Linked DNA regions of Homo sapiens: regions 1 and 2 are each linked to region 3. The links come from fine-mapping of genetic effects on gene expression. A gene starts in region 3. Each other region holds a variant in brackets. All regions are shown on one strand. Distances are between the middles of the regions.

What was found. PIP is the estimated chance that this variant, and not a neighbour inherited with it, causes the effect.
Region 1: its variant is fine-mapped to the expression of TSC22D1 in whole blood (TOPMed, PIP above 0.99).
Region 2: its variant is fine-mapped to the expression of TSC22D1 in monocytes after Pam3CSK4 (Quach 2016, PIP 0.95). The same link has a PIP of 0.9 or more in monocytes after LPS and monocytes after R848.

The regions. Positions count from the first base shown.
Region 1 is chr13:44,267,958-44,276,138 of GRCh38, forward strand. No RefSeq gene overlaps it. Among named protein-coding and RNA genes, the nearest start is that of MIR8079, 76 kb to the left of the region's middle. RefSeq lists an enhancer at 6,505-6,684. The variant G/A (reference allele first, on the strand shown) is at 3,350.
Region 2 is chr13:44,308,429-44,316,609 of GRCh38, forward strand. It overlaps LOC107984552 (a long non-coding RNA gene), which reads left to right and starts at 2,814. Exons shown (of 3, transcript XR_001749973.2): 1 at 2,814-3,663. RefSeq lists an enhancer at 3,540-4,739. The variant T/G (reference allele first, on the strand shown) is at 4,678.
Region 3 is chr13:44,571,268-44,579,448 of GRCh38, forward strand. It overlaps TSC22D1 (TSC22 domain family member 1), which reads right to left and starts at 5,063. Exons shown (of 3, transcript NM_183422.4): 1 at 1,896-5,063. The coding sequence starts at 4,807. TSC22D1-AS1 (TSC22D1 antisense RNA 1) reads left to right here and starts at 4,629. Exons shown (of 3, transcript NR_038381.1): 1 at 4,629-5,003; 2 at 5,775-5,910; 3 at 6,835-8,181. RefSeq lists an enhancer at 4,536-4,775 and silencers at 5,096-5,805, 5,816-6,055, 6,326-6,525, 6,706-6,755.

The DNA.
Region 1 (8,181 bases), 300 kb before region 3:
CTTTTAAACCCTCACCTGTGATGATCTTTTGGGTATTTACCTATAAACAAATACTAAGCTCTATTTACATCCACACAGGAATTCCCCAAGGTAGTCATAATACTCTTCAAATCCCTAGTCAAATTTCATTTTAATGGAACGGTTCAGATAAAACCAACCACTCTGTGTTTGCCACATCCGCTCAGTAAGAATTCAACATTCTTGCCAGAAAGCAAAGAGAATGTTGTGATTTCACCCTGCCACTCCCTATATCTCAGCATTTCCAAAGACAAGCCCCACAGACCAGACCAGATTTGGTTTAGTTATGGAGTAGCACAGGAGGAATTTGCTCTAATCCGCTTCAAGATTGCCTCAGTTACTGAAAGTTATTTGTTGACGCAAAATCTAGATTAAGCAAAATGTGCTAGGAGGAGAATTGCTTTGTACTGCTGACATGAAACAACCAAGAGTTATCCAGAGATCCCCTTTTGTTTTAGGACTTCTACAGATTTGTCCTAAAAAAAATAAGTACTCTACCTCTTAATTACCACAAAAGAATATGCAAATGACACCTAACAACCCAGCTTAGATGAGTCAAGATGGACGGGCAGAAGAATGCAGTTTCTAAGGGCATGAACTCTGAAGATGGGCTACCTGGTTCACTCCTGGCTCAATCTCTGACTAGCTCTGTGATCTTGCACATCTCTGTACCTCTGTACAGTTTCTTTATCTCTACAATGGGAAGCTCCCAAAGTTGCTATGGGTATTGACATCAACAATGAGTTGATGTGTGTTACGTTCTTAGCATGGTACCTGGTTAGTGGTTTGCCATTGTCACAACTTCCACGGCTTTGAAAGATTCTCAATGGGAAGAGAAGTGAAAGACACCTGAACTCCCAGCTCAGGTGAATGGCAGTCTCCACTACACCCCGCCAGTCTGACTTCTGAAACCTGGCTGTCAGCTTTTCCTCTTGCTCCACTGCCAACACTTCGAACCCCTACATTCCTGAAGATGTAGATGCTAGAAACTGGACTGGATATCAACTGACCCCATAGAGCCCCATGGGAGTCAAATTTCTAAAATAAATAGTGCCAACAAAGTGAGAGTAAGTTTGCTCATATTCAGCCACCCAAGAAATGTCACATTTATTTATTTTAATCAAATCCAACTCTGAGCAATGGTTTCAAGATCCTGTCTCAGTACCTACTGGGGTTTTCTGACCTACCAGGGTCAAACAAAGAGCTGACATGATCTCTTGAAGTCTGAGTGCCTGGTACTTCCCAGCCTGTGTAAGGGGCAGAGGAATCCAATTGGTGCTGGAGCCAGTAGCCTCATTCCCTGGGGTTCAGTCCTTCTGGGAACTCTACACAACCATTTCTGCCCATGTCTTATTGCTAACCTGGGGTGTGGACAGAGAAGGGTGAAAATGCTGTCACTTGGTGGGTTCACCAATCTCTAACAGCCCCCCAGGCTTGGGATATCGTCTGCTCCCTCTCAGCTTCCACTTGACACCCCAAGATCCCTCATGTCTCTCTTCTCTGGGAGTTCACAATCTAAAAGACCTGTTGGAAAGAGAAACTTGGGATAAAATGAATAAAGTACAACAGAGTCTCACCCAACTGTATTCCTCTACCAGAGGACAGACCACAGATTACTGTCTTAACATATACCCTGACACACCAGCTGTGTGCCTTGGCTTGCTAATGTTTCTTGTAAATACTAATGTAGCAACATAATTTTGGTGAATCTAGGGTCCTGGTTATCTACTTAATCAGGCTTCAAAGTGCTTTATTTTCAGTGCACAGGGAAGAACCCTAACTGCTTACATTGTCTTGCTGACAGAAAAAGCTGATCTTATTTAAGAGTGGCAAGCATTACCTGGGCCCAGTTGGATACAGATATATCAGAAATGTATGTGTCTGTTTGTACACCTGAAAGCATCTCCCCAAAAGGGGGCTTTCAGCACAGGTGGCTTCCACTGCCCTCCTCCATCCCATCCTCATAGCAGACTGCCAAGAACCCTCTGGGTTACATGCACGTACATAGGCCCAGAATTGGTGGTGTGGAGGCAGGGACAGACAAGAGGACAGCAAAGAAAATAGACAAAAGGAAGACCCTGGACAAACTCATCCCCCCTTTATCAAATAATCTTAAACTATATTCACGTGTGTTATCTCTTTTGATCCTCACGACGACCCTGGGAAATAGAACTGACAATTTCCTTAGAGATGAAGAATCCACAACAGGCAAGAAGTAATTTACGTGCCCAAGATCATCCAAAGAGCATGTGAGGAAACTACACAGCAGTGTGATTGTCCCAATCCCTGGCTACAGTTGCTTCTTTTCATTAATGATGATGCTTCTCCTCCATAAAACTCAGCCCAGTCGCAAAGTCATTTTCATATCTATTGCATCATTTAATTCTCTCCCAAAAATCTAGAAGGAAAGCACTATTATCACTGCATGGGAGACAAAAGGTCAAACTGATGGTTGGCCCATAGTGACAGGAACATCTAATAAATAAAAAAGGAATTCTGGTCTCCAAATTCTCTGCTCCTTCCTCTACCTCCGAACTGTCTTTCCATGGGGCTCTATTCCATTGTCATTTGACTACCAAAAACATCATCCTCCAGAATCAGGATGACCGCACAGCATCAAATATGTGCCTACTGTGTCCCAGGCACTGTCCTCACATTGAGAATACAAAAGGCAATGAAAGAACCCCTTATGGGGGTCAAAGATCAGTGGGGGAGGCAGACTCGTGAACAGATAATTTGCTGTAAGCAACTAGTGCTGTAATCGAGGCATGCACGAGTACTCTGGAAATTCAAAGTCAGGGAGATTCACTCCACCTGCCCGGGAAGAGGGTGGAGGTGATGGGGCTCCAGGAGGCTTCAGTGGTGGTACTGACGCTTTCCACAATATTACCCAAACTTGGGAATCAGCTTACACACGACGCAAAAGCCCAGAGAACAAAAATAGTTTTACCTCCCGCAGTTTAGTGAGAGTCATGGAAATTACAAGTGCAAAAAAGCACAAAAGAGAGTGATCAGCTATACTGCTGACTTTTTCCTACTTTTGACAACTTAAATGAAATTGTCCTGAGTCATACTTACTACAACCTTTGACATTTCTTAGACTTTTAACAGGTACAAATCCTCAGCAGCCATGTTGTTTATCTAAATTCAGCCCAGAGTCTGTGTCATGGTTGCCATTATATCCTGTGCAAGGAACATGAAAGGGCCAAATTTAGTAGCAGATGATGAGTGTCAGGTCCAGGAGTTTCCGAGAAGCTTATGAAATCCTCTGTCTTGTTTACACTACATTAAAATCTCCCTTCCCCAAGCCCGTCCTTCTCCGAAGGCTGAG[G/A]TGCTTATCCTGGAGCCACTACTTCCTGCAGCTTGAAGATGAGTAAACCATACCCGCCTGCCCCAGGGGTACCCTCTGGGATTCTGGGCAGCTCAGGGAATCTGCCCTGCTGGCATCATCATTTCCCTGAACCAAGTTCCCAAAACAACACAGTAATGACAGAAGAAAACCAAAGTGGCATAGATGGTACAGGTATACATAGCACCTGGCCCTGGGTTATCTTAAGCAGGTGGTCTTCCACGTAAATCCAGGGGACAGACAGACACAAGAGAGTTACAGACTAGCCCTTGTCTAAGGTTGGGTGCATTTTCCTAATGGGATACCACATGCCTGGTTACAGCAACCTAAGGAGAATGACTGAATTGTTCTGAGCTCAGGAAGAAACATTAAAAAGCTGGCTGCAGTTTGTTACATCCCTAACTTGTCCAGATATTAATATTTTAAACAGCAGGACTGACAATCCTCTTGATCTCTTGATACTCATCTATTAACAAAGTAATTTTTCCCCTGTGGCACTCAAAAAAATCTTTGCGTTTGAATTTTTTTAAAAGTCATGGCTCACAAATATTTTGTAACATTTGCACCCCGTTCTCTAGAAGGGATCACTCCCTTGTTCTCACTGTTTTACTGGCCTCCTGAGTGCTATGCCCACATACAGCAGTAATCTAATTTCCATCTGGTCAACCTCCAGGAGCTATTTTGAGTCTGGCCTGAATTTAGTCCACTTTTCCTGCCAGTGCAGACTCAGGCCCTCTACTCTCCTGGGGCTCTTTTCTCTAAAGAAGCTTTTGAAAAATACAGGCTTCCTACAGGGCCAGGGTCACTGCCCATCTCAGCTTGGAGTGGTGCCAGGAGATGCTAAGTACTACCCTACTTGCCACTGGGGAAAGACAGGAAAGGCAGGAGCTGGCCTTCCCATCCTCAGCTCTCACGGTTCTTGTCTCTCTCCCTGGCTCTGCCCCCAGCCATTTGCTCAATCCTGCAGGATGCTGAGTGCACCCTGCTAAGTGTCTGATCCTTTGCTCCCATTTGACCCTGTGCCTGGAGTGTACTTGCAGTTGTCTAGCTAACTCCTGCTGGCCTCTTCCTCATCCCCAAGATGGCTCAGGTACTCCTCATTGGTTTTTCTTTAGCCTCTGCCACATCAGGGCATCCACCTCACCATCTAGAACCAGCCCTTTTACTTGTCTGTCTCCCACCCCTTCATGCTAGACTGTGATCTCCCTGAAAGTGACACTGTGCTCTGTTATCCCTCGCATCCTAAGTACCAGACACATAGAAGACGTCCCATATACTTTTGCTGAATTGAATTCAATTGCCCTAGAAAAGAAAAGTGCCTAGAGGAAATGATTAAAAAAAAAAAAAAAAAAAAAGGAGGATTGGAAGAAGTGAAAAGAAAAAAAAAAGCATTTGGTGGAAAGTCAGAGGGCACCTCCAAACACTGCCTCAACTGTCATGCTTGACTTTGTAAGTGGACTAACACCAAGCTGATGATGAATCAGTCGGAAACGATGATGCTATCTCCAACCCCTACTGCCTAGAGAAAGGGTTTCCAAGTCCAGTACCTCCAGGGGCAAGTAGGCAACCTCACTGTGAGGAAGTCAGCCAGATATGAAACAGCAGGGAGTGATGGAATCATGGAAACCCTGTGCAGAGAGCCTCCTAGACCAAAACATTCAAATTCAAATCCAAATGCAGGCAAAGCCAGCCTGAGGTCCCGATTCATGCTCTGCTGGCCAGATCTAGAAGGATAGTGCTCTGCATTGCAAAAAGTACCTCTAGCCTGGAACAGGACCTGTCCTCTTTGATTTTTCTACATTTCACAGGTTTAAATTAAGTACACTCAAAGGTGTTATTTGTAGCAATATCCTAACTACATTGAACTACCATTTAACATGCTGTTTCTACGGGAAACATGTATTGCAAGTTCTAACTCTAAGTGCTAGGAGTGTCCCAGCATCCATCCCATCTTTGGTGATGACAGCATCCATGGAATCAACATCTGAGGTACAGAACGTCACTGGGGAGGCCAGGAGAAAGCTCCTGGGTGCAGATAGCTTGTGATGGCTCCATATCTCTGTATATATCTCAACACGACCCTCACACTCGATACTCCAGGCATGTCCACCTATCTACAGAGGGCCCGCCATCCTCATTTCTTCACCACTGCTGTGTGCCATGCTACATCCTCTGCCTCACCTTCACCCAGCTGCTTGTTTTTATCCTGTGGGCCACTTCTTTTCCTAACCTCTTCCCCGCTCTGTTGTCTGACACTCCAAAGCCACCAGAGCATGTTGTACTTTCCCCAGTGTGGTGCTTCTCCACACTGGATTGTGACTGTCATTTGTGGTCAGCATCTCCCCCAGACTGGTAGGAGGAGGAGAGGGTCGGACTCTTCACAGCAGTATCCCCAACACCTGACTGGTGTCACATGCTTCGTGGCCAGCATTGAATGAATGAGCAAATGTATTAACAAAAAATTGAAGGAATGAAGAGATAAAGCAACTTTTTGCGCTAAATCACTGGTATTCTCAAATGGGTCACATGACACACTGTCCTCTCAAGGGACAGAGACAAAGCTTGCATCTGAAACTCCCCATACCTGCACATTCATTGCTCAGTTAACCTTCACAATAACCAACATGAGGTATTTCTTTTACAACAATAAAAAAGTAAATTGATGACTAGAGATATTGAATAAATTGCCCAGCACCATAAAGCTAGTAAATGGCTGAACCCTGAACTCCAACCCAGCTCCCCTGACTGCAAAACCTGTGCTTTCCCACCACACCGGGCTGGCCAGGGGTTAGGAGCTCACTGATGCCTGATGGCAAACATACTCCTGCTGTCGCTGCTGCTGCTCCCACTCCTGACTTCAGTATTCCAGGCTCACACAGCCAAATCAGCTCTCAGAAGAAGTCAACCCCAGAGTAGATTCTGGGTCACAGCTGTTACAATCAGGAAGTTGGTCTTTAACCCCAGGTAGAAGCTTCACTTCACTAGGGTGGGATCTTTGAACACAGAGCATCCCTTCCATCTGCTGTCCCACACCTGCCTCCCTATGCCTATTCTCATCAACACATATTTAAAACCTTTGAAGGACAACCTCAAGCCACATGCAAAAAACTTCCTAATTATTAGGGAGCGAATTTGCAATATTTTAGTATATATAAGTAAGAGTGAATGAAAGAGACATAGAGGCCGAGGGAGAGGCAGAGAGAGAGGGAAACAGAAAGTGAAAGCAGAGGCAGAGTTATGCATAACAGGTTCTAAAATACACTATTTGGTAGGGGTGTAATGATGACGCACATTGCTAGAGAAAAGAACAAAATGGAGGAAGCTCTCTGGCGTCTATGTGCCTTATAAAATTATTAATTTAACCAATCCCTAAAGTCATGAAGTATTAAGTGACAAGTTGTCTAGCTACAATAGTATGAGTCAACTACTGCATATTCCACTCTATTTTAACATTGAAGCCTAAGATGATTTAGGCTAACAAAGTCATTTTCCAAACAAATCTAAAAATCAAATCTTCATACAAGAAAAGAGGGAGAAGCACCAGACTTTAACCCCAAATGGCAGCCAGTCTTTATGAGATTCTGTTACAGGGTCTGTAAAACTCTGAGCCAGCTGCATGGAAAGGACCCAGGACCACTCACACTGACTGATGTGGTCTTTGAAAATGTGCCAGCAAGGCTTACAGAGAAGGAAACCAGAGCTTTTCAGAACTCAGCTCCTCTGCACAGCGACACAGTGAGATGGACAAGGGCTGCTCTACTGAATTTGCAAATGTGAATTTAACCCACTTATGAAAACAGTACCGGGCATGGCTATATCACTTATCAGCTCATCAAGTTTGTTCTGGAGGGGAAGCAGTTTTGTGTGGCCCCACTATCAGGCACCAGCCTCATAAAGAAGCAAGCAGCACAAATCCTAAATTCTGTGGTGTTTAATGGAGGCCATGTCAACACAACAGCGGGAAAGAGAGGGACTCTCTACCAACCGGTATACTAAGACATAATCTAGAGGCCAAAGGACTCCAGATAAATTACCCATTGCCCAAAACAAAAGGAAGTCTTTTGATAAGAGAAATATTTACACCTGGGGAGTAAGCCATGGTCCCAGGAAGAAAATGTCTTAAAATGAACTTTGCATCTATTTAGTTTTGCATTTTCAGTCCCCAAATACCCCATCACTGTTTTCCTGTTTTCTTTTTCTCTCCCATGAGCTCACTATCCCTTTGCAAATTTAGGGGAAATAGGACTGCTGTTGACTCTGCAGCTGCAAAAAAAAAAAAAAAAAAACTTGCTAAGTGGAAGAAACCATTTAAAAAGGGCCACATACTGTATGATTCCATCTACATGTTACATATTTATAGCTGTCCCTCAGTTCTTGGATTTTCTGGTCTAATTTTTTCCATCTTTTTCTTTCCAGTTTGGAAGTTTCTGTTGAGATATCCTCAAGCAATTCTTTCCTCAGCCTTATCTAGTCTACCAATGAGCCCATCAAAGACATTTGTTATTTCTGTTGAAGTGTTTTTGAAGCATTTTCTCTTGTTTCTTGGAATTCCCATCTCCTGGGTTACATTGCCTTATCTGTTCTTGCTCTCTGTCTACTTATCCAGTAGAGTCAAATATTAATCATATTTGTTTTAAATTCCTGATCTAATAATTCCAACATCTCTGCCACATGTGAGTCTGGTTCTGAGGCTTGCTCTGGCTCTTCAAACTGTGTTTTTTTCAGTTTTAGTATGCCTGGTAATATTTTTTTTTTAACTTAATTTTCTTGATAGCTGGGTATGATATACTGGGTAAAAGGAACTGCTGTAAACA
Region 2 (8,181 bases), 260 kb before region 3:
GGTGGCAAGCTGGAGACCCAGGAGAGACCTACCCGAAATCCAAAGGCAGGAAAAAAGGCAATGGCTGACAGGCTAGGGGAAGTCTCTCTTCCTCAGGGGAGGGTCAGCCTGTTTGTTCTATGCAGAGCTTCAACTGATGGGATGAGGCCCACCCGCGTTAGGAAGGACCATCTTCTTCACCCAGCCTGCACATTCACATGTTCCTCTCTTCCAGAAACACCCTCACAGACACCTACAGAATAATGTTGACCAACTCTCTGGGTACCCCATGGCTCAGTCAAGTTGACACATAAAATTAACCATCATCATCACATAGACAGGGGCCAGGTCAGCACAGCCACAGCAGCAAGGCAGAAGGAGGCAAGACTGAGTGAGGAGGCTGCAGGGTTGCTGGGAAAGCTAGCTTCAAGAGAGGAACATGGGACATTCTCAGTGAGAAATGGAGATGAGAGACAGACAGGGGTACCAGAGACTGGGAGCCTTTCCAGTGCACAAGATTCCCCTTTATCCTTCCACTCCCCAGTTCTAAACTGAACTGCTTTGAGTGGGTTTCTCTTTTGGATAACTGAACAACCTCTGATTAGAACAAGAACATCGTGGATCTCCTTGAATTTTATTCTCTAACTTTAGCCCAATTCTCTAATTTTAGACCAGCCATTTATCAAGCAATAAACTATACTGCATGTCATGTACTGCCAGGTTAAATACCACATACTCTTCGTTCTTAGATCATTTACATTTATGGTTTTGACTTCTTGCAAGCAACCACGTGCTTAAAATATTTCCATGAGGGTTTGATAAAGTATTTTGATCTGTAAGGCTTAGGTTTAATGAGTGAGCTACTCAATTCCTGAGGGGTCCCATCCATCTGCCCAGCATCCACATCATCATGCCTTTTTTGTTTTCTACTCACTGTTCTTTCAGCATTTTCTGGGGGATGTCAAATGTTAAGAGGTTTTCCTTAATTTGAGAATGTGTGACGGCCCAGTCTGAATGCCTTGCAAAAAGCATAGGTCTACTATACAATGTTACTGACATAACTTTTAGAAATCTCTGTCTCTTCTCCTATGAGCTCTTTGAAGGACATGACCCATGCCTTACACAATTTTGTGGCCCTTATACCTTGAATACAGTACCTGGGACCTCATAGGCAAGCAATGCATTTTTTGGTTAATTCTCTCAAATAGTTCTCATAAAAAGCCCACCAAGTAGATCACATTATTCCCTGTTGCATTAATGTGTTTAAACTAAGCGATGCTACAACAATGTACAACCCCAAAAATCTAAGCATTTGCCTCAACAAAGGTTTGTTTCTCACTCATGTCACACATGTATGATGGGTCAGCTACAGCCCTTGTCCATGCCTTCTTTGCTCCAGGACTCAGTAACAGAGAGAAATGGAGATAGCAGAACCACAATGTCTCTTAAAGCATCTATACAATAGTGGCACAATTCCTCATACTCACTTTTGCCAGCCAAAGTAAATCTCACAGCCAAGCCTGACGTCAATAGGGCAGGGATATATAGTCCTTCGCCAGCAGGAGGGAGGGGTGCCAGAAATCACATGGCCACACCTAGTACAATGCGACAAGGATGCATAATCTTCCCCCAGAGACAGCAAAATGAGAGTGCTAGTACTACACAGCACACCGTCTCCTAAAGAAACTGAGGGGAAGCAATCCGCCTGATCAAGTAGCTCATTAGTGGCAGAATCAGCCTTTAAACATCGTCAGACTCCAGGTTTGAGGATTCCTTCCAGCACACCACAGCTGTTTCTAGGTCTCACTCTGGGACAGAGGCACCTGCCCTGATCCACGCTTTCTGCCACTCTCCAGGAATATTCACGTCAAGATGTCCCACTCAAACATTTGGCCCTTGAATGTTTTATTCATAAGGATCATATGTCCAAAGGAATCTAAGCAAGCCAAGTCAGACAAAATTAACAAGCGTAAATTAAGGAATGTAATAGAGCCAACATTGAAATTCTCAGTAGATGGAGTCATTTAAAACATTTTTTTAGTTTAACCAGACTGAAGATCAAAAGGGGGTTGGTGGCACCTGAGAAGAACAAGAAGCTGTCACCACCCCTTGCCCCGGGAGCAGAAGAGAGATGAATGACAGCGCTGTCTGCTTTCAGCACTTCAGCGTGGCGTCAGCTGTGTCTCTCTGGCCATTGGTCAATTGCATCCTGCAGTAGCTGGAGTGAGGGATCTGGGGAGGACAGGGACTAATGCCCAGGAAAAGCCTGGCACCAATCATTTCAAAAGGGTCTTAACCATGACCTGTTCAGCATTTCCAGAGTTAATTAGTCCCATCACGACGAACATCACCCAGTCCCAAATGGGCACCCTGGTTGCCTGTGGTAAGTGACTTATTTATTTGCCTCTCTCTGGCCAGCAAGTAGCTTTGTTCAAGAAAAAAAAAAAAAAAAAAAAAAAACCTGACCACATACAGATCCTCAATCTAGAAAAGAAATCAGAATTCACTGTTTTTTCTGAATCACTTAATTTCCCTTAAGTTGAATAGATGACATGTTTGGCCTTCAGACGGTGTGGATTATGAAAAGTCAAGCACTCTAACACTTGGCAGCAGAGGCTTCATGGAATACCTACTCCCCACCTCTGCCAATAACATTTTTAAGGAGATTCGGTTTGATTAAACTATACAAGGTAAATAATGAATCCAGCCTGCCCAGGATATATCAGGTTGCATAGTGTGATGAAACACATACCATCCTGAATGTTCTTCCAAAAGAACATGTACAGAAAATGCTGTCCTTCTGCCAGAATACAGGCTCCTTGCCAACCCCCACCACTCTCCACCTTGAGACCAAACACTCAGCAAGCTGAAGCTTGCAGGCCACGGTGACTGGCTCCATGCTGCCTTGGGAAGCCCTACATGACCTCTACATGGTCCTTCTTCAGTATGTGAAGTACAGAGGCAACACCAGGACATTTTGAAGGGCAAAAGAAGGTTCAATGGGGCAATTTCCAAGGCATCTTGCTCCACTGCTGGTAAGCAATTAGCAGGCTTTCTACAGGGACTTCTCAAAAGAGGATCCAGAAGGCAGGCTCAGCATTGCAGCCTGGCTGCAGGCCACAGTGTGGCAGACGCATGTATTCATGGGCATGTCAAATACATCACTTCAATACGAAATTCATAGGCCCAACATTCATCTGCGAGATTGAACACTGGGTAGCTCAAAAGCTAGTCTTCTGAAAGCATCCTACAAAACACCCGAAGTTGCCGTTCCAGAATTGCTATAATTTCACGACTGTGCAAGCTGTACTAGTAGTACACAGGCAAAGGGATAGAAAAAAGATTATATTAATGCTCAAGGGGGAAAAGCAAGATTATAAAGGACTTAGCAGAGCTATGTTCTGATAATAAACCAAGAGCATTTAGGACCCAACCTAGAAAAAAATGGATTTACAGCCGAAGTCTTTCCTGTTTGGGGCTACAGCATCATTCTGTCATTCTAACCACATTTATCCTGAACCTCCCCCCACCACCCGCTGCCCATGTGCTGGCCACCGTGCTGGGATCAACAAAACTGAATGAGACACAGGACCTGATACTGGGGAGCTGACCATCTAGCAGGTGACGTATGGATGGATGAAGCATCTTAGGACATCTAAAGAAAGAGATCACTCCTCCATACTGGTAAGTCCACAGACAGCTTTACGGAGACATTTGAGTAAAGTCCTAAAAAGGGGCAGGGATGCAGCCATGTGCAATGGGAAGAAAATAATTCATCAGCTGTGACCATGAATGTAGATAGAGATGTTTGGGCCTCATCCAGATCCCCTCTCTGCCCTGTGGGGCTCCCATCTCCTGGCTGCTGAGAATTTGGTTGTTCTCTACCCACAGCTGCTCCCCTTTTCTGGAGGTTTGCCCTTGGCTGACCAGAGCACCTCAGCGGGGAGGTTAACCGCACTCTGCCTCTGAGGATGGCCAACAGCCAGTGATGGCACAAAGGGCCAGCCCCCTGGCCTCAAGACAGGCACAATTCTGAAGTGGGCTCATGAAGAGACTACCCAATCCCCCCAGTGGACAGAGCTGAGGTTAATCTCCACCTGAGACCTGATCTTCGCTGAGTTCCTTCCCCTCTTCTATCTTGCTCCTCTCACTCCCTAGTCGATATTTCCTGAGAACACCTCTTCAGTAAAGCACACACATCCAAATCCTATCCAAGGCTTTGCTTCTAGGAGCCCATCCTAGAAGGCAGTAGGCCCCTGGCTTTCCCTCATTCAGCTGCACAGTTGCACTAACAAGGAATTCCTGAGGTGGCCTTCTAGCACCTCTGTAAGCCCCCTATCCTACTCCACCCTTACCCCTCTGCTTCACCCGAAACTGACCCCTCACTCTTTCCCCACCTCATGTCTTATTTTTGTTAGAAAAGCTTACTCCCCACTTACCCATTTCTTTCAAGATCTAACTCTAGTTTTGCTTATTCCAAGGTTTCCCATGCTAGACTCTACCCATGCCCCTTACGTGTGTATTTTTTAACCACTTAAGAGATGTGCCAAAGCATGTATCAATTTTTATTTTTCAGACAATTGAATCAGAACTTAGTCATCCAAATAGATGTTGCCACTTTGAAAATATTCATCTTGGGGGATTAATCACTTCCTTCAATGCAACCACTGCCCATCATAATTTAGGGATTCCTCTTTG[T/G]GGTTTGCCCTCAGTGTATGCATCACCCACTGTTGAACACGGTAGCCTACAGCAATGTCTCAGAGGTTTTAGAACATCATTCAGAACCATGACTGGTGATTGCAGGTTACTAAGAGCACATACATAGATATTTTGTAGTTCCACAATTTACACATCTCCAGCTGTCCCTTGTTGAGTGAAACCCTTTCTCTCATTATGCTGCTCTAAATCCAACCAATTCCAGTGATGGCAAATGGTTGCTCTGTGAAAGTGACTTTTCTTTCCTCTTTGAGACATTTGGATCCATGCCTGATGAGTAATGTAGGTACTGATTCATTCATTCAACAAATATTTATTGAACACTTTCCACATGGCAAGCCCTGTGCTACAAGTGAGGCTGTAAAATCAAATAAAACATGGTTTTTACTCACATGAGGTTTAGAGTCTATCTGAGGAAAATAACAAGTCAATTGACAATGTAGTATAGTTCAGTAAATGCTATAGAGAGATACACATGGGTCTACGGAAGAGAGAGGAGTAAAGGGAGGCTGGAGGAGCAGGGAAGCTTCTGGAGGCTATGTTTTAAAGGGTGATTCAGAGTTTTCTAGATAAAGAAGTTTGGTGGGGTCAATGAGTAGAGGGACTGCTGGTAGGAAGGCATAGATAGAATTCTGAAGCAGAGAAATATTTGAGACACTTCCCGTGAAGGGTGGATTTGGCAGAATGAGCATAGACAAGAGAGGTGGTCAGGCTACTGAGAGGCCAAGAAGGGTTTATCTCCAGAGGCACAGGAAAGCCACTGAGGGATCAGACTGGGGTAAAAACCAACCAACAAACCAAACCCATGTAGCGTGACTAACAACTAATGAGTCATTTTAATGTGTGTGCTCAGTACTTCTGCACATGTGCCATCCTGATGAATCCTTCAACAACTCTATGAGAGACACATGACTATCCTCACTTTCCAGAGGAGGAAACAGAGACTGGGAAAGTTTACTAACTTGCTTAAGATCACACAGGTAGTAAATAGCAGAGTTGGGATTCAAATCCTCGACTCCAAAGCTCAGGATGAGCCTCTAAAAGAAGTCCAGCAAAGGATACGAACAAATACGTCATGTTAAAGGAAAAACTTCAACCGCATTAAATTTAAAGGAGTTTAATTGAGCAATGAATGATTCATGAATCTGGTAGCCCCCAGAATCACAACCAATTCAGAGAGACTCCAGGGGTGCCTCGTAGTCAGAACACAAATTTATAGACCAAAAAAAGGGAAGTGACATACAGAAATCAAAGGTGACATACAGAAACAGTTGGATTGGTTACAACTCTGCATTTGCCTTACTTGAACACAGTTTGAACACTCAGCAGTGTATGAGTGGTTGAAGTATGGCTGCTAGGATTGGCCAAGACTCAGCTATTGTTACAGGTGCATACTCCTAAGTTAGGTTTTCAATCTTGTCTACCTATTAAATTGGTTGCAGTCTGTCCACAAGGACTCAAATATGGAATATATTCTCAGTCTATATTTAGTTTGCTTTAACAATCATTTAAAAGAGAACTTTAAATTCTACATAAATTTACAATGTTCAACTTAGGCACAAGTCAAAGCATTGGAAAGTAAAGCAATAATACTGAATCATTATATACCCATTTAACTAACAGAAAACCTTAGTCATTATGTGCAATGCTGTCTACTTTGCATCACTCGACTGGTATTAATATATTGATGGTCATATTGTAAATGGTCATACATCTTTTGGAAAACAATATAATAATATATACCAAAAGTCAACCCTCTTTTAAAATGTCCATCCTCTTTTACCCACCTCTAGGAATGTATCCCTAGAAAATATTTCAAAAGGAGACAAAAAGTTTATCATTGTAACATTATCTTGAGTAGTGCTAAACTGAAAACAATTTAAATGTAGAGTGGTAGTACAATGGTTTGGTAAATGATCATACAACAAATCAATGGAATATTGTGTAGCCATTTAATATGATCTTTATGGGGATTATGTAACACCATGGGAAAATATTTATAAGAAGTAAACTGTCACGTGAAAAGATAGAATACAGTACACTATTGATATTCACAAGGTGTATAGCCTAATATCTCTGCAAATTCCCAAATAAGTGGAAACCATTGTAGCATACAATTTTCCCTTTAAAATGCAATAGCTAAAAATGTTAAGTAACCCCTCAAGACTCTTAAGGAGTCTATAAACTCAGGATTTGCTTATAAAGCTATAAAAATAAATTCTGCCAATAAAATAAATTCTAGAATGCATTATATTACATCATTAGGCTACTTAACTAAATTTACCTAAATCTGCAAAGAAACAACGTCTTTATCACGTCATGAGAGTTCTTTGCAAGCTTCATATGAAAGCACAAAAGCTGTGTTGAAATGCTGGTCCCACCAATGGTGGGCTGGGCTTGTTTACTGACTGTGTGATTCTTACTTTCTTGCACACCAGCTTTTTGTGTGTGTGTGTTTTGAGACGGAGGCTCGCACGTTCGCTCAGGCTGGAGTGCAATGGTGCGATCTCAGTTAACTGCAACCTCCGCCTCCCGGGTTCAAGCGATTTTCCTGCCTCAGCCTCCCAAGTAGCTGTGATTACAGGTGCCCACCACCATGCCCAGCTAATTTTTTGTATTTTCACTATGTTGGCCAGGCTGGTCTTGAACTCCTGACCTCGTGATCTGCCCCCCTCAGCCTCCCAAAGTGTTGGGATTACAAGTGTGAGCCACCACACCCAGCCCATCAGCTTTAAAATCTAGCCATTTCCAAATCAAAGCCCTCAACATTACAAACCACTGTGATCTTTGAAGTCCTAGGCAAATAATTGAAATTGAGAATGTCAAGTTCAAGAATGCTTCCAATCTACTTCTATTCAGAAGTACATATGCGTTATGATTACAACAATTTGAAAATTTAGACATACAGCCATAGCTGTCCAGAAACATAAAAAACAAAGACAATTGTACTTGGGTGAAAGAAATCTAGGTAGTAGTTTTCTTTTAAAACATTTCTAAGTATTATGTATTTTTTTCACAATAAAATGCACACAAACAATTTATTACCCTGTTGTCATATTCTTGTAGGTTGAACCCCGTTGCCTTTAATCCATTGATATTTTATAGTTTGTAATGTATTTGCAGGGCTTTGGGGTTGCAACAAACGGGTAAAGCCTGGAGAATTAAGCAAGAACTGGCTATAGAAGTAACCACATTATACTTCCTATCCGTATCCCTTGACATTCAACCAGGGATGCCAAAATCAGTGGTGTCTTTGTACCCACATACACTGGTAAGATGCACTAGTACTTTGTTTTCAATGTGGGACCAAGGCTCATTCACTCAAATGACAAAACATGCCTATGATTTCTGTGACCTCACTGATTGATTCGACAGGAACTACAAGTTACATTCAGTGGTTTGATCCATGTGACACTAGGAGGTAGGAAAGAAGGGAGAGGCAGAAAGGACAGAAGGAGGGAAGGAATCATGTATTCATGCTAACAT
Region 3 (8,181 bases):
CCATAATTTCCACCTTATTATTCCTTTTCTCAATTATTATCTGGAAAAATTAATTTTATATTAATATCTTAAACTGGGACCCTATTCCTATAGTTAAAACTCTAGTTGAAAGTAGCATCATCTGACTTTAATTGCCTGGAAGGGCAAGCTGTGGAAAATCCTATCATGTCCTACCAATAGGAGGAAAAAGAGGTGAAAGTCAAGCCAGGAGACCACAAATGGCAATTACAAAATCATGGCAAGTTTGAATTCAAAATGAGTGTTTTTGTTTGTGTATTTTACCCGTCTTTTGTTTCTCTAAACTTAGCATCCACATAATATAGCTGTTTTTATAGAGGCTTCACTCAAATCATAACCTTTTGACTTAAAAAACATTAATATTTGTGGTAATTCTTTTAAAATTAGTTGAGTATTAGCATGATAAAATTAAAGGTTTAACAATAATAATGGAACAATTAAGGAAACTACCTCCTAAAAGTTTATCTTTTAGAGTACAGTTTTGTACAAATAATACAGAATACATTTGGTTAGGTAACAAGGTTTTAATTACCTGACTATTAGAAAAATAATAAAAATCTTGAAAGATAAGATTTTATCAATTTAACCATGTCTTTATCTTACCTTTTAAACAACTAAATAACACAAACCTCACTGAAACATTTGACCTGTTTTCTTTTTCTAAAATTACAACTATTTTGCAATATGCTCAATTTTTCCAAAGCAAAACCCACAAACATACATATAGAATATAAATGCTTAAATTCGCTTGATGAAAGTTCAATCACAAAACCCTCCAACTAATACTAAAATAATTAAATATCTTGCACGCTTACTCCAAATTCCACCGTGAAAATGATGTCTTTTCATAACTCCTATAATAGCATTTTAATCAAGGTTAGTAACAGACTGGAAAATTTGTGAAAAGAACATTACTTTAAAAATCAACATGAAAGATTTCACAACTTTTTTAGCCAGTCAGCTTCAAAGACACAATTTGATTCAATAAGCGTTACTGGCATATTATTTCCAATCTACGTGAAAAAACGCTTGGTTTAATAATGTACTTTAGGCTTTCTGTATCTTTTTGGTAAGGAAAGAAAGGAACAGGTGGAGTAGATTAGCCAGAGACCAAGGTCTTATTTTCACGCCTCTATAAATTCAATCCTCCAAGACTTACTTTCTCTGTTCTTTAAAATGGCTACCACCTTGATCTACCATGCAAAAGAAAAAATGTTCAGCATACTATCAAGATAAGTCTGGTTATTTTGATAGTTTATGTCCTCCTTTCCCACAAAATAAGATTCCCATTCCTTTACTGTTCAGATAAAATGACCATTAAATAAGTACGCAAAAGTTGGTCAGTTGGAGTATGAGGGCAACCTATATAACCCAGATTAAGTCATCTTTCCTACCATATCTGACTAGGAAAAGTAGGCAACAATATCTTTCACAGACTAAGATCAAACACAGTAGAAATGAAAAAGGGATGTCTAGTAAAGGAGAACAAACGTGGGAACCACAACCCCCCAAGAGATTATTTTAGCAGCTCAAAATAGATTAACTATTATGTGGGTTAGCAAAAATTAAGCTTTCCATAATATTTCTAAAAAGCATTTTAGAGATAATAAAACCACTTGGCGCCCCCAAACCTGTTTTTAATGTGAACACATGCTCAACAACTATTCTGAAAATATTGTTTACATATTACTATTATTTCCTACTCCCTCTGAAACCATTCCATAACTCTTGCTCTATAAAACTTCCCATAAAAATGCATTTTTCACATACAAAACACAATATACAATGTTTTAGAGTCATTTTGTGCATACATATAGCTACTAAATAGATTAACTTCAAATCTGTTGAATGTCTCCAGAAATATGACATGATCTTACCTCTCATCCTCGCCATCCACCAGGGGTGTCGTCAGCGGTAGCACCTTCAACGGGAAAAGAGAAGCAGAGGCTGCTAGGCTGCTGCTACTCCCATCTGAAACTGCTGACATTCCCCCACTGTCACCACTGATAGTCTGAGGTAAGCCAACTAAGGAGGGCTCCGCTGCACGCCTGGCATCTTCAATTTGGCTTCCAATTGCCTGAGCTAATGATTGTGCGGAGAACTGGGTAGAACTTAGTGGTATCTGTTGTGCCAAAGGCAAATTTGTATTAGTTGCTATCAAGGGAGGTTGACTAACACTTTGAACCAAATTACCATTTTGGGTAGCAGGGGTTTGTGCTATATTTTGTGGTGGAACCAAGTTTGTTGGGGCAGAAGGCATTCCAGAAGGACCAGTTGAACTAACCTGACTTGTAACAGAAATACTACTAGCAGAGGGCAAAGAACTAACTGCAGGCAACTGCTGTGAAACAATTCCTTGAGCTACTGGTTCTACTCCTTGTGGCTGGGGAGGCACAGTTAACAAGGAACTTTGGGATGCAATAACCAATTGTTGAGGAAGGCTTGGAGCACTAGTTTGAACTCCCTGATGAATAATCCCAGTTTGAGCAGGTGGAACCACTTGCGAAGATGGAGGAGCACCCTGCTGAATAACTGAAGGTGGAACCTGGGTAGAGGGCTGCTGCACTGCAGTAGGTATGTTTGCTTGCTGACCAATATTTGCAATCTGACTGCCAGTAGGTACAGCAGACACTGCTGCCGGAGCCTGGCCAACAGGCTGGACAGATGCCCCTGCAGGTTGTGCTGGGACTGCTGTGGGCTGCACTGGCAGCTGGATACCCTGTGGCTGAGCCACAGGAATCACTGTTGTTCCTGCTCCTACTCCTGCAGAACTGGGCTGTCCGGAGGACATTGCTGTTTGAAGAATTGGCTGCTGTTGTACATACTCTGAAGCAGGATTTTGAGTCACTGATTTGACATGGCCTGGGGCCATCTGTGTAGAAACCATTGGTTGCTGTTGTCCATACTGTAACTGTTGGGGTGGTGGTGCCCCTGGAAGGGGAGTTTGCACTGGAGGAGCCGCCTGAGAATATGGTAGCTGGGGTTGAGCCAAACTGGAAATGGAAGGCTGCTGACCTAAAGCTGAAGTTACACCAACCACATTTACAGGCGATGGCTGGATACCAGTTGCAGCACTCATAGTGGCTTGCAGAGGTACTGGCTGAAGACCTTGCTTTTGCTGATAGCTCAGTTCTTGAGACTGTAATTGTACTTGTGAGATCTGTGACTGAGAAATACTCTGTGGTATACTAACTGCTGGAATACTCTGTGGACCAGTGCTACCAAAATCCATCTGTTGGAGGGTCACACCTTGGAGAGCTGGTTGTTGCTGTTGTTGTTGTTGTTGCTGCTGCTGCTGCTGCACCACCACAGTAGGGGCTCCCATCTCTCCACTTCCCACACTCTCTGTATAGTGACTCAGTGTGCTGACACTACTGCTCACTGAACTCCCACTAGTGCTCTCCCTTTCAGAAGTCACTTCTATCGGATTTTGCTTTACAGTCTCCACCACTTTATTTATCAGCACACCTTCTGTAGCAGGTACAGCATTTTCTTTTTCATAGAACTCAGTGCAAGTCCATCTACCTTTTTTAAAGGGCTCAGAACTAGAATCTAACTTCACAACTCTGAACCTCGAAGTGTTAACTGTTGGTTGTTGCTGCTGACTTGAAACCGATCCCCCAGTCATCCCTGCAGCTGCATTAGGAACACTGCTAACAGCAGCAGAGGAAGAAATAGTACCATTGCCCATGCCACTCAAGATATTCACATTAACACCACTGGTAACTCCAGGCCCAACACTCACACCAGCAGCACTAGGAATATTGCTTGTACTTATATTAACATTACCAAGCATGCTGCTTGTCACATTAGGATTAAAACTACCCACAGCAGTAATGTTAACATTATTTACTGTACTAGTGCCAGTAACAGAATTTATACCTATTCCACCTGTAGTACTTGGAGCACGCATATTAGTCATTACAGATGCAGGTGAACCACTGGATGATACAGCAGAAGTTGGTGCAACTGGTGTGATACTGTCAGAGCTTCCAGTTGTAGAGAGTTTTCTAGATACTGGGCTTGAGGGTGGCCCACCAGTAATGGATGCACTGGCCACAGCAACATGAGATGGATGGTGGTGACCATGTTGGAGGTGGTGCCCATGATGAATCTGATGGTGGTGATGGAGGTGGTGTGGATGAGCATTCCCATTGATCACAACATTCTGTTGTGGAAGGTGAGGCAAATGAGGCTGAGGAAGGTGGGGCTGGTTGGGAGAGACTGCCCCAGGTGTCTCGGCTTCCTGGAAGTTATTTAGGGTCTCTTCTGAGGAGCTGCGTTCGGGCTCCCCTAAGTCAGTAGCCCTGGAAAGTGACACATCAAGGATCTCCGAAGAAGAGAGATCTTCCGTGTGAGATTCATCCAGATCATCATAGCTCTCAGTGTCCTCTGCTATACTGTTGTTAGAGCTGATACTAGCGGAGATCTGAGCAGGAGTAACGCTAGTTATCTGGAAGCCACTTTTCTTTTTCATTTGAGTTCCGCCTGGCGCAAGAGGCTGTGCCTGCAGCTGAGCCTGCGAAAGGAGGTTCAGGCTTTGTGGAGGCGGAGGCTGTGGTCCCGACGTAGAAGATGCTGCAGGGGGCGGCGGCTGAAGCAGCGACGGAGGCGGAAAATCCTCGGAAGATGTGGCATTACTACCGACGCCGGTACCTGCTGCATTGAGAGCAGAGGCGCTGCCACTACCGCTGCCCCTTCGAGGGAACATTGCCGGGTGCGCCATCTTCCTAGCGCTAATGTCTGCAGCGGCGGCGGCCGCGGCGGTGGACTCAGGCGGCTGGTGCATTGTGTTGGGTACCGGGGGCGCGGAGGAGACGAGTGCAATTTCCTTCTGCACCGTAATCTTTGTATTGGAGACGCCGGAGAGGAAAACGGGACCTGACGCTCCGCCTGGCGCGATTCCTCCTTCTCCTCCTCCTCAGCCAAAGGCGCCGGTCGCTCCTGCCTTCGAGAGCGAGCTTCGGAAAGGAGGATGAACGAGGGTGAACAGGGCGGCCGGGGACCCGAAGGGGGGATCCCTTCAGTCCTTCGCCATTCACTTTCCCCTCTAGCCTCACACCCCCCTTTATATTCTGCTTCACGTGGGGTGCGGGGCAGGAGGGAGGGGGAGAGCGCAGGAAGGGGAGGAAAAGCGAGAAATGCCCACCTTCTCCGGCCAACTCCGAAGCCGCCTCAGCCCCCTCCTCCCGCCGCGTCGGCGGCCGCTGCAAAGCCCTCCCGGCCGCTCTGCACGGAGGCAGCGCCAAGCAAATGTCGCCTTCCCCTCGCCACCCCCGGGGCCGCCGCCGCCGCCAGCGAGCCCCGAGCTCAGTGTCGCTCAAACCTCCCCTCCCGGCCCCGCTCGGCCCTCCCCCCGCGCCCCGCAGACCCTTTCAAACCCCCTGGGCTCGCGGCGGCTGCTCGGTGAGGAAACGCTGGCCGCGGCTGGGGCCGGGGCGACGCGGCTGCGAGCGGGGCGGCGGCGAGGCGCCCGGTACGGTGAGCCCAGCAACGAGGCGCGGGCGGGCGCGCAGAGACGCCGGGTCCTCGCGGAGCACGGCCGGGGCGCGGCGGCGGCGGTGGCAGCGGGAGCCCAGGGACCGCTCCATCACTGGCAGCCATGGAGCCCGAGCATTTTCCTCCCTCAGGGCAGGCGCCTCGACTCGGCACACGTCCTCGGGGAGGAAGGGGCCGGCACCCGAGCCTCTCCGGAGGGCGGCGGGACGTGCGCTAGGGCGGAGGGTGCGACCCTCTCTTATCCTCTTCCTCCGCAGCCGGCTCTTCCTCACCCCGCTGCTCCCGCGACCGGGCGGGAGAGGGCCGCAGGCGGCGGCGGCTCCTTTCTCCGCGGCGTTGGTGGCCAGACGGGCTGGTGCAGCGACTGCAGCCGACGCCGTTCAAAGGAACGAGGTGGGGTTGGTCGGTGTCGGCAAACGGGGCGGGGGAGTGAGTGGGTGCCGAGGGAGGGTGTCGGGCGGGGAGGGGGCTGTGGTGGTTGTTACTAGTGCTCTTCTTCGGCTCCCCCGGCTCCACCGTATCCCCCAGTCTCTCGCGGCATCGGGAGGGGAGGGACCAGCGCGGAGCGCAGGAGGAGGAGGGGCGACCGCCGGCGAGAGGAGGCGGTGGTGGCTGGGGGGAGGGGGCAGGCGGAGGAGGAGGAGGGAAGATGGCGTCTGCGCATGCGCCTCGGCGCCGCAGACATAAAGCCGGGTCTGGCGGGGCAGGAGGCGGCGGGTCTTCGGGCCTAGGCGAGCGCCAGGTCTCCCGACGGAAATTACCGAAGGCTGGCAGAGGCGCCGAAGCCGGGAGTGGTGGAGCCGGAGGGGATAGTGGGGGTGGGGAATTCCGGCCGAAGGAGCGAATCCGGGTCGGACTGCGTGATTCGGCCCGGTGGGGGCGGGCAGGGTGCGCGCCTGCCGCGCGCCCAGGTTAGGTGTGTCCGCTCTTTTCACACTCGCGGCCGGCGCGCGCGGGCACGCGGCAGAGGAGGGGGCGCGGCGCGGAAGGGCCGGCGGAGGCGGCGGGAGCGCCGGCGCTTGGTGTGCGCGCCTTGGGTGGTGTCCCCCGCCTGCGGAATGGGTAATGAGGCTTTTCTCCGCAGCAACAGCATCACGAGTTTCAGTTCCCAGGAGCCCGCCGCCGCGGCTGCTGCCGCTGCCACGACATGAGTCAGGCTTTCTTCCCTGGCGCGTGGCGGAAACCTCCTCCCCCTCGCCGCACCTGGGCTCGCCCCCGGCCCTTGCCTCCTCGGGGGATGCCCTAGGGCCGGGAGCTGTGGGGTCTATGGAAGGCCGGTGGCTCCCGGTGATAGGTGTTGTCTTTTGTGCAGTGCAGTTGCTGCCATGCGGTCCCCTCGCCCTTCCACGGGCAGGGGCGAGGCGGCCGGGCAGATGTTGCAGCTGTTTCCAGTTAACTGCCTGAGCTCCTCTGGGCTAGGCTCTTCTCTAACGAGGAGTGGTTGCAATCCATCCTTAACTGGAGGACAGAAGCAGGCCGGCCCTGTAATCGACTGACCTCAACAGGTGTCTCCAAGCAGCGACGCCTTTTTCGTTCATCGTCCTGGCTATATCCCCCATTGGTTTGACTCAGGAGGCAAGGTGGTCCGGACATGTGAGCAACACAAATGATAAGAATGCCTTTTAGGGCTAGAAAAGAAAAAGCCATCCGAAATTCCAGTTTTAAAATACACACACACACACACGTTACATTTCATGGGTCCAAATGTAGTTCTACAGAAGCAATGTTAGGTTTGATTGGGGGCAATTTACTGGCGGTTACTTTCTTGGTATTTCATGTCAAAACCTAGTTCTAAGCGTTTCTTACCAATAATCGAGAATGTAAGTCTTTCCCAGGAATTTAAAAATGATAAAGCAAGCCGAAAAACTGTAGGGAGGAATTTTCATTTTGTTAAATTTAGGTTGTTAGGGGAATCAACGCTTATGGTTAGACCTCTGATTCAGGAAGTCTCAAGGATTTACATTCCTATTTCAGAAGATTGTTAAAGCAAAAACGATTGTCATTTGCAGTTTTGATACACCTCTAGTTGTCAGTTCAACTTTTTACCTTTAGTTTTCTCTGAACTCTTCCCCTTGTTCCAAGGGGAAGCTTTCAAAAAGTGAATTATGTCACCATTTGCATGTTATTGAATAGAAGTGCACTCTTAACATCCCATTTATCCAGTGTCAAAGCTATGATACATTGTTGCTTTATGTGGGGTCTCCCACACTGAAAAGAAAAACCCGGACTTCATTTATTTATTTATTTATTTATTTATTTATTTATTACTTTATATTGCTAATGTAAACCTCTGCTAGAAGTAAATAGGCTCTCGCAAATATTCAAAGTGATACAGTAATAAACATCAAATATGTTTGAGAAGACTACTTGTTCTATGATATTAATATGTGATTGGTTGTTTTTATAGAACTATGGCTATTTGTGTTTTCACAAAAATAATTTCTTTTTTACTTTTTGAGCTTTTGTTGCAAGTAATATGCCTGGTTAATCGCTGCCATCCATTGTTGAAATGCAAATTTGACATTCTTTTTCAATAGTTTTTGAATGGAAAATAGAAACTACCCTAACCGATTGAAACTGCAATGGAATGTAGATGGGTGGAATGTCCTTTCTTTGGACTGCAGTATGAAAGAAAATGCTCTTGATCTCTCAAAATGTAGCCTT